Linked DNA regions of Homo sapiens: region 1 is reported to be linked to region 2. Evidence: microRNA targets listed by miRTarBase, many of them from high-throughput screens and not tested one by one. Region 2 holds a microRNA gene; the other region holds the end of a gene's coding sequence.

Region 1 (4,388 bases), not on the chromosome of region 2:
GGAAGGCGTTCAACCGTAGGTCACACCTCAAGCAGCATCAACGGATTCACACTGGGGAGAAGCCTTATGAATGCAGTGAATGTGGAAAGGCCTTCACCCACTGCTCCACTTTTGTCTTGCATAAAAGGACCCACACAGGAGAAAAACCCTATGAATGCAAAGAATGTGGAAAAGCCTTTAGTGATAGGGCAGACCTCATTCGCCACTTCAGCATCCACACTGGAGAGAAACCCTATGAGTGCGTGGAGTGTGGAAAGGCCTTCAACCGCAGCTCACACCTCACGAGGCACCAACAGATTCACACTGGAGAGAAACCCTATGAATGCATCCAGTGTGGGAAAGCCTTTTGCCGGAGCGCAAACCTTATTCGACACTCCATCATTCACACTGGAGAGAAGCCGTATGAATGCAGTGAGTGTGGAAAGGCTTTTAATCGCGGCTCATCCCTCACACATCATCAAAGGATTCATACTGGGAGAAACCCTACCATTGTAACAGATGTGGGAAGACCTTTTATGACTGCACAGACTTCAGTCAACATCCAGGAACTTTTATTAGGGAAAGAGTTTTTGAATATCACCACTGAAGAAAATCTGTGGTGAAAGGGAACATCTTACCATCTGGCCATTCACACTGAAGAGAAACTTCATAAGCATCCTCTCTTTGAGAAAACGTGTAATAGATGATCATTTGTCGTCTAAACAATCAAGTTAGAAATTGAACCAGCCTGGAGTCTTATTCTCCACCTGAGAATTCACCCATGAGAGAGACCCAGTGGTTGCTATGCACTTAGGAAAACTTTCAGCCACATCTTTCTTCTTAGTTTACAGTGAAATATTATCTCAGGGATATTTTTTTTTTTTTTTTGAGACGGAGTCTCGCTCTGTCGCCCAGGCTGGAGTGCAGTGGCGGGATCTCGGCTCACTGCAAGCTCCGCCTCCCGGGTTCACGCCATTCTCCTGCCTCAGCCTCCCAAGTAGCTGGGACTACAGGCACCCGCCACTACGCCTGGCTAATTTTTTGTATTTTTAGTAGAGACGGGGTTTCACCGTTTTAGCCGGGATGGTCTCGATCTCCTGACCTCGTGATCCGCCCGCCTCAGCCTCCCAAAGTGCTGGGATTACAGGCGTGAGCCACCGCGCCCGGCCATCTCAGGGATATTTAAACAAAGGAAGAGGAAATATAGGGAAGAGAAAGAAACCACAGCTTCTTTTAGACTTGTCTGACAAGCCTATGGCAATTTTGTCGTCCCTTTGTTATTTTATGTGGGAGAGGGAAATGTTTCAGAAACGAAAGATCTCATCCCCTTTATTTTTCTGTGTATGCATTCACTGCTGCCCAGTGTCAGAACAGTTATACAAACGAGGGCTTGAAAACATTTTGTGAAAACTTGCTTAGTCCTGCAACGTTCTCCACTCTCGAGGTGCAGAAGCATACATCTTTATAAAAAATATGGAGGCTTGAGTTATGAAACACTTTTATAAGGAGATAAGGATGTACATATGTTTGGACACATTGTCCACTTCAGATGCTTGTTTAAAAAAATGTTTCACCATGTGTCTTTACCCAATACACATACTTTTTCTTGATGTGGATTTACTTTTTTTTTTTTTTTTTAAGTTTTCCTGGGATAGGGATGATAGTGTAATTGTTCATGCCCACAGTAATCCTGGGAATCTTAGTTTTTTCCTATGATTGTGGTTTCTCAGCTTCTTTACCTCTCCTTTGAGTTAGGTCCACCTCAGTTTTCTAAAGGTCAAATTAAGGCCCCCCCAAAAATACAGTATGTAGCTGAATTCCTTTGAAAGATCATGATAAACTCAGAAGAACAAACATAGAAGGAATGTCATTTTTAATCTTTTTAAAGAGTGTGTGAAAATTCACTTTAACTGGAATTTTAACAGGCAAGCCGGCATGCATATATGTAGGGATGTGTGACTTTCACAGTTGTCACCATGGACTTAGGCTTGATTAAAATGCTACACATTTAGAGCGTTTTGTAATTCCTTTTTTATATTTTTAAGACTAGATTTTGAGCCATGTGATAGTTTTACCTCATATTAAATATATTGTACAGAAGTAAAAATAATCATGTATTCACTTTGAACTCCTCAAAGCCTTTTTTATTTATTTACTTATTTACTTACTTGGTTTAGGAGCAGAGGTTTAATAGGCAAAAGAAAGAGAAAAGAGACTAGCTCTCTTCTGAGAAGAGAGGGGTGTCCAAGTGGGACTTCCCTCCTCAGAGCCTTTTTTTTTTTTTTTTTTTTGGAGACAGAGTTTTGCTCTTGTTGCTCAGGCTGGAGTTCAGTGGCACAGTCTTGGCTCACTGCAACCTCTGCCTCCCGAGTTCAAGCGATTCTTCTTCAGCCTCCCAAGTAGCTGGGATTACAGGCATGCGCCACCACGCCCAGCTAATTTTGTATTTTTAATAGAGATGGGGTTTCTGCATGTTGGTCAGGCTGATCTCGAACTCCTGACAGGTGATCCACCTGCCTCGGCCTCCCAAAGTGCTGGGATTACAGGTGTGAGCCACTGCGCCCAGCGCTCACAGCCTTTTAGTGAACACTTGTATAGTTTTCTATTGTAGGCAAAGCCATTTTGTACTGCATTAATTCATGTCATTATTTTGAAGACATCTCTTGGTCCTTTTTTTTTTTTAATTGAGATGGAGTCTCGCTCTGTTGCCCAGGCTGGAGTGCAGTGGTGAGATCTCGGCTCACTGCAGCCGCCTCCACCTTCCGGGTTCAAGTGATTTTCCTGCCTCAGCCTCCCAAGTAGCTGGGACTACAGGTTTGTGCCACCACACCCAGCTAATTTTTGTATTTTTAGTAGAGATGGGGTTTCACCATGTTGGCCAGGATGGTCTTCATCTCTTAACCTTGTGATCTGCCTGGCTCAACCTTCCAAAGTGTTGGGATTACAGGCGTGGCCACTACGCCTGGCCCTCCTTGTCCTTTTTATGTCATGTCTAAGAACTCCTCACCAGGTTTTCTATCGTATTTCCTCCTACAAATTTTATCTTCTACATTGGATCTGATTCATGTTAAGTTAATTTTTGTATTACAGTATGAACTTTAGTTTCTTTTGTTGTTGCCCATGAATTTTTTTAAGCTCCATTTCTTGAAAAGACTATTCTGCCTCTATTGAATTGCTTTTACACCTTAGCAAAAAATTATTTAAGTATATTCATGTTGGTCTATTTCTTGGTTCTCTATGTTATTCCATTGGTCTTCGAGCCTAAACCTATGCCAATACCACTCTATTTTGATTACTATTGCTATCTACTAAATTTTAAAATAGGGTAAACTTATTCCTCACTCTTTATTCTTTTTAAAAATTGATTTGGGGCCAGGCATGGTGGCTCACGCCTGTAATCCCAACACTTTCGGAGGCCAAGGTGGGCAGATTACATGAGGTCAGGAGTTCAAGACCTGCCTGGCCAATATGATGAAAACTCGTCTCTATTTAAAAAATACAAAACCTAGCCAGGCAAGGTTGCAGGCGCCTGTAGTCCCAGCTACTCGGGAGGCTGAGGCAGAAGAATTGTTTGAACCCGGGAGGTGGAAGTTGCAGTGAGCTGAGATGGTGCCACTACACTCCAGCCTGGGTGACAGAGTGAGACCCTGTCTCAAAAAATAAATAAAAAATAAAAATTGATTTGGCTTTCATATCAATTGTTTCCTTTGGCTTTGTATATACATTTTATTGCATGTTTGTCTCTATGAAATATGTTGCTGGGATTTTGATATAAATTGCCTTAAATCTAAAGATCGTTTTGGTGGGAATTGACATCTTGTTGAGTCTTGCAGTTCATGAATATGGTACGTCCCTCTGTTTATTGAGGTCCTCGTTGATTTATTTCATAAGGGTTTTGTAATTTTCAGCTTATAGATTATGGACATATTTTAAAAATCTAGACAGTTTCTTAGAGGGCCATTATATGTTGTATTGAGTTTTAAATTTCAGTTTGCACTTGATACTTGCAATTATAGAGAAATATATAAATTAGAATTTTTATATGTATTCTGTGACTTTGCTGAAGTCAGTAGTTCCAGCAACATTTTTTAATAGCTTTCTTAGGATTTTCTTCATAAATATTAATGTTATTAGCAAACATCAAACATCTTACTTCTACTTTTTTTTTTTTTTTTTGACACTCTTGTTCTGTCACCTAAGCTGGAGTACAGTGGTGCGATCTTGGCTCACTGCAACCTCTGCCTCTCGGGTTCAAGGAATTTTTACCCTCAGCCTCTCGAGTAGCTGGGATTACTAGCACACTCCACTATGCCCAGCTAATATTTGTGTATTTTGTAGAGATGAGGTTTCACCATGTTGCCAGACGGGTCTCAAACTCCTGAGCTCAAGTGAGCCTCCTGCCTCAGCCT
Region 2 (4,388 bases):
TTTATTTACAAACTTCCACAGAATCCCTCACCCTCCACCCCAGGGTCCTCCCTCTCTGGAACTCAGGCAGCAGACAAGCTTGGGTCCACCCACCTGCCCAACCTAGGACAGCTGGGCCTGAGCTGGGCGGGCAGGGGATTCCATCTCCTGGGTGCGCCTGCCAGAGGGGAGAGGCTGGAGGCGGCGGGAATGCTGTTCTCCCCCAGGAGTCAGTCCTCAGGGCTTCTGCCGTGGGACGTGGGGCCGAGGGACCTGGGGCACTGACCAGGTCGGGGTCGGGGGCAGCATCTGCATTGGTGAGGCCTGGATGGGGAATAGGGAAGTCTCAGGGGGGCCACTTGAAAGGGACAGGTCATCCCCAGTTCCAGCCACATTCCCTCCTGGATCTTGCAGTCAGGGTGGCCTTCCTGGGTGGAGCAGGGCAGGCGGCAGGGAGCAGAGGAGTTCCGAGGGATGGCTAGGGTCAGGGCTGGAGGGCTGGACCCTGCAGAGAGACACTCCCAGGCTCCATCCTCCCCACCTCAATCCTACCCCCCAGGAGGCTCTGCAGTCCCCAGGCCTGCTGCGAGGTCTCTGTCCCTCTAGGGGGCACCCCAGGCTAGGATGCGATCTGGACCGTACCGGGTGAAAAGGGCTGCTGGTGCCGGACAGCTTCTGGTGCTGGGCCTCAGCGGAGACAGAGGACCAGAGGTCCAGGTTCCTGGGGGCTGAGCTTTTCTCAGACTTCGGAGGAAAAATGTCCCAGCCCAGCAGGCAGTGCTGTGGAAGGCAAGGAGTTAAAAGTGCCTGACCTGGGACAAGCTCCCCGCTGACTGGGCACACCCCCATCAGGGAGGAACTGTGCCCCCCATTAGGAAGGAGGCCCCCACCAAGGCAGGGCCTGTGTCTACCCACAAGACTACCCCAGCTCTCCCCTTTCTTATCCTGGCAGATCCAGCCATCCCTGGGGCCCTGAGAGCTGAAATGGGAGGAGGATAGGACGGTGACAGTGACATTCACAGGGTACTTCCTGCTGTAGGCTCTCCAAGCACCTGCATGGATTGCTTCACTCAACAGCCCCACCTCACCACCAACATCCCTGAGGATGGCGCTGTTATGTCCATTTTACGGACCAGCAAACTGACTTTCCTCTGCATCCTTCTCCTCCTCTGACCCCAGCTGCCCTACTCTCAATTTAGGAGTCAGGGGGAGTTGCCACTGGCACCCCATCCCGACCTGGAGACACAGGAAAGGACATTTTTTTTTTTTTTGAGATGGAGTCTCACTCTGTCACCCAGGCTGCAGTGCAGTGGCGAGATCTCAGCTCACTGCAGCCTCTGCCTCCCAGGTTCAAGCGATCCTCCCACCTCAGCCTCCCAAGTAGCTGGGACTACAGTGGAGGCTGCAGTGAGCTGAGACCATGCCAATGCACTCCAGCCTGGGCAGTAAGAACAAAACTCGGTCTCAAAAAAAAAAAAAAAAAAAAAAAGCAGCAGCAGCAGCACAGAGACCTAGGTTCGAATCCCAGCTCCTCCACCAAGGCGCCTCCCCCTCTGCTTCGGTCTCCCCACCTGCAGGGTGGGGGTACAGCAGTGCCTACACTCCTGGCTGCTGTGGGGGCTCCATGAGATAAGCCCCCTAAGGACTGTGCCTGCAGTACACAAAAGCGCAATAAACAGGACCCATTCATGTCATGCCAGCCTGCAGGCAGATCACCCTGGAAGCACCGGGGTACGTGGAGCGGGGGTCCTACCTCCCTTAGGTACAGGTGTGGGTGATGGAAGAGGCCCAGGCTGTGCTCCAGAGACTTGGGCGCTCACCCTTGTCGAGCCCAGTCTCGCTCTGTGACCCTCCCTGGGGATCTGGGCCAGTCTGAGCCAGCCCCGCCCTCATCACCATCCAGCCCCACGTGGCTGCTCACCCGGGGCAGGGCCAGTGTGTCAGAGGCGTCAAAGCTCTTTCGCCGGTGGATGTGGTACCGGTGCGGGGGCTCCAGGATCGACAGCGGGATGCTCACCCTGCGCAGGGGGGCAGTGGGGGACCCCTGAGGAGCCTCCCAGCGGTTGGGGGCCCACGCCCAGGCCCATCTTTTCTTAAAACCAGTGGTTCAGGCTCTGTCCCCCAAGGTGTCCCAATACTCTGGTCACTCACCTGACGTGCGCTGGCTGCGCCAGGGTCCCAGGGCCCTGCTGGTCTCGCGGTGTCCTGCACAGGCGGCAGGGGGTACCGGGATCCACAGGCACCGGGAACAGGCGCCGGTTGACACGGTAACAGTACACGCCTGCGAGGCCCATGAGAAGCCACAGCTCTCCCTGAGCCAGGAACCCAGGTCCCCAGGCTCCGTGCTGCCCTCAGCGGCCCCCAACCACACAAGCTGCCAATCCCTCTGGGAAGCCCTTCGGCCCATTTCCTCCTAACCCCTTTCCTCCCAGAACCTGGGGCCCACGCCCTAAGGGGTGGGGAGGGACATCCTCCTGGGGCCCTCAGGAGCTGGGATGGAGTCCCACCAGCACAGGGGCACTGCTGGGGAGGGTGGGATGGTGCCACACAGGGCAGCCCCTAATTCGGTGGCCAGGCCTTAGCTCACTCCACCCCTACCAGGGCTTGGCCACCCTGTCCAGACTGCAGGCCTCCCTCCATGAGTCTCAACATCTCAGGGGCCTCCCCAGGCCCCAAACCTCAAATGGGACTGCTCTGGGGCAGGGGAGGCCAGGGCAGCGCGAGGCTGGACTACTCAGCGGCCTAGCCGAGGGCCCGCACTCACATTCATGGTCTTCCTCCACGCCGCTGCCACTGCTCTCACGCAGGCCTGGCAACTGGGGTCTGAGAGGGCGAGGGGGATGAGCAGGCCGGGGGATGGAGCCGCTCAGCCGCCCTCGCCCACCCTCGCCCGCCCCTGCTCACTCAGGATGGCTGCAGATACACTCCTCCTTGTTGGTTTCCCGAAACTCCTGCAGCTTGGAGAAGAAGGCCTCAGGCTGGCTGGTGATGGAAGAGCTGGTGTCCAGAGACCCTGGTGTGGGCAAAGCACCAGGCAGCTGACGGGAGAGGGGCTGGGGGCTGCTGTGTGGCCACCGGCCAAGGCTTGGAGAGACGATCAGCCCTGGCACCCCAGGCCACCTGCTTCATCCCTACTGTGCCTCAAACAGGCCAGGAGGGCCCCTCCAGTCACTGGGACTGTTGGTTGGTTTCAGTGTCTGTCTACCCTGATGCATAGCCAACCATCCATGGAAAAAATATCGACAGAGCCCTTATGACAGGGCTAGATGCTGTTTCATGTGCCAGGAACTAGACAGACAAAGCCCCTGGCCTTAATGAGGCTTACACTGTAAGGTGGCAAGAGATGAACTAGCCACCAAAAAAAAAAAAACCCGTGATACAAGACTGAATGCTGATACCTGCCAGAAAGCAAGAGAGCAGCGTCAGAGCCTAGTATGGCCGGGCAGCCATACCAGGGAAGGCCTCTCCGAGTGAGATGACCCTGAGCAGAGACATGGAGAAGCCACAGAGACCTCCCAGGAAGGACATCGCAGGGAGATGAAAGAGCAAGCGCAAAGGCCCCGGGGTGGGCATGTGCATGGTTCAGCTGAGGAACAGCCAGGAGGGGAAAGTGGCAGGAAGGCAGCGAGGGTGGAGGAGATGAGGTTAAGAAGCCCAGGGAGGGTCTGGGGAATGGGAGGGACACAACCACATCAGCCACATATTTTTACAGAACTCCTCCTCTGGCTGCTTCAAGTTGAGGGGAAGCAGAGGCATCGGTTAGGATTCAGCTGGGGAGAGGTAGGGGCAGCCCCCAACTTACCATGATTCGACTTAGGATGTTTCTTTTTTTATTTTTTGAGACAGAATCTCACCGTGTTGCCCAGGGTGCAGTGCAGTGGAGCGACCTCGGCTCACTGCAACCTCTGCCTCCCAGGTTCAAGCGATTCTCATGTCTCAGCCACCTACAGAGCTGGAATTACAGGCGTGCGCCACCACACCCAGCTAATTTTTGTATTTTTAGTAGAGACGGGGTTTCACCATCTTGGCCAGGCTGTTCTCAAACTCCTGGCCTGATCCACCTGCCTCGGCCTCCCAAAGTGCTGGGATTACAGGCGTGAGCCACCGCACCCGGCCTAAACAGTATTTTCAACTTATGTTGGGTGTATCAGGATGTAGCTGGATGGTAAATCCAGCAAGTTTATGGCCTGACCTATTTAGTATTTGGAGTTGCCATTTATGGAGACAGGAAAGACTGCAGGAGGAGCACAGCAGTGGAAATCAGGACCTTGATTTCGGACAGAAGGTTAATAACTTCATGGTGATGTGGAGAAGACAGTGGGATATACAAGTCTGGAATTCGGAGGAGAGGTGCGGGCTAGAGATACAAATGGAGAAGTAGAGAAAGTGTCCAAACACCTCAGCGTTTG

The links. The annotated mature microRNA hsa-miR-6729-5p reads UGGGCGAGGGCGGCUGAGCGGC and lies in region 2 at 2,841-2,862, opposite strand. An mRNA with a match to its seed (bases 2 to 7 or 8) in the 3' UTR can be bound and repressed. Matches are read on the target gene's strand: a 7mer-m8 pairs with bases 2 to 8, a 7mer-A1 pairs with bases 2 to 7 and ends in A, and an 8mer does both.
Region 1: the mRNA of ZNF543 is a reported target of hsa-miR-6729-5p. Seed matches in the 3' UTR shown: 7mer-A1 at 887-893.

The regions. Positions count from the first base shown.
Region 1 is chr19:57,328,664-57,333,051 of GRCh38, forward strand. ZNF543 (zinc finger protein 543) reads left to right here. Exons shown (of 4, transcript NM_213598.4): 4 at 1-2,107. The coding sequence ends at 602. Among named protein-coding and RNA genes, the nearest start is that of ZNF543, 10 kb to the left of the region's middle.
Region 2 is chr1:12,027,637-12,032,024 of GRCh38, reverse strand. It overlaps MIR6729 (microRNA 6729), which reads right to left and starts at 2,867; the gene lies at 2,803-2,867. MIIP (migration and invasion inhibitory protein) reads right to left here. Exons shown (of 10, transcript NM_021933.4): 5 at 2,884-2,992; 6 at 2,744-2,802; 7 at 2,131-2,260; 8 at 1,901-1,997; 9 at 622-759; 10 at 1-303. The coding sequence ends at 217.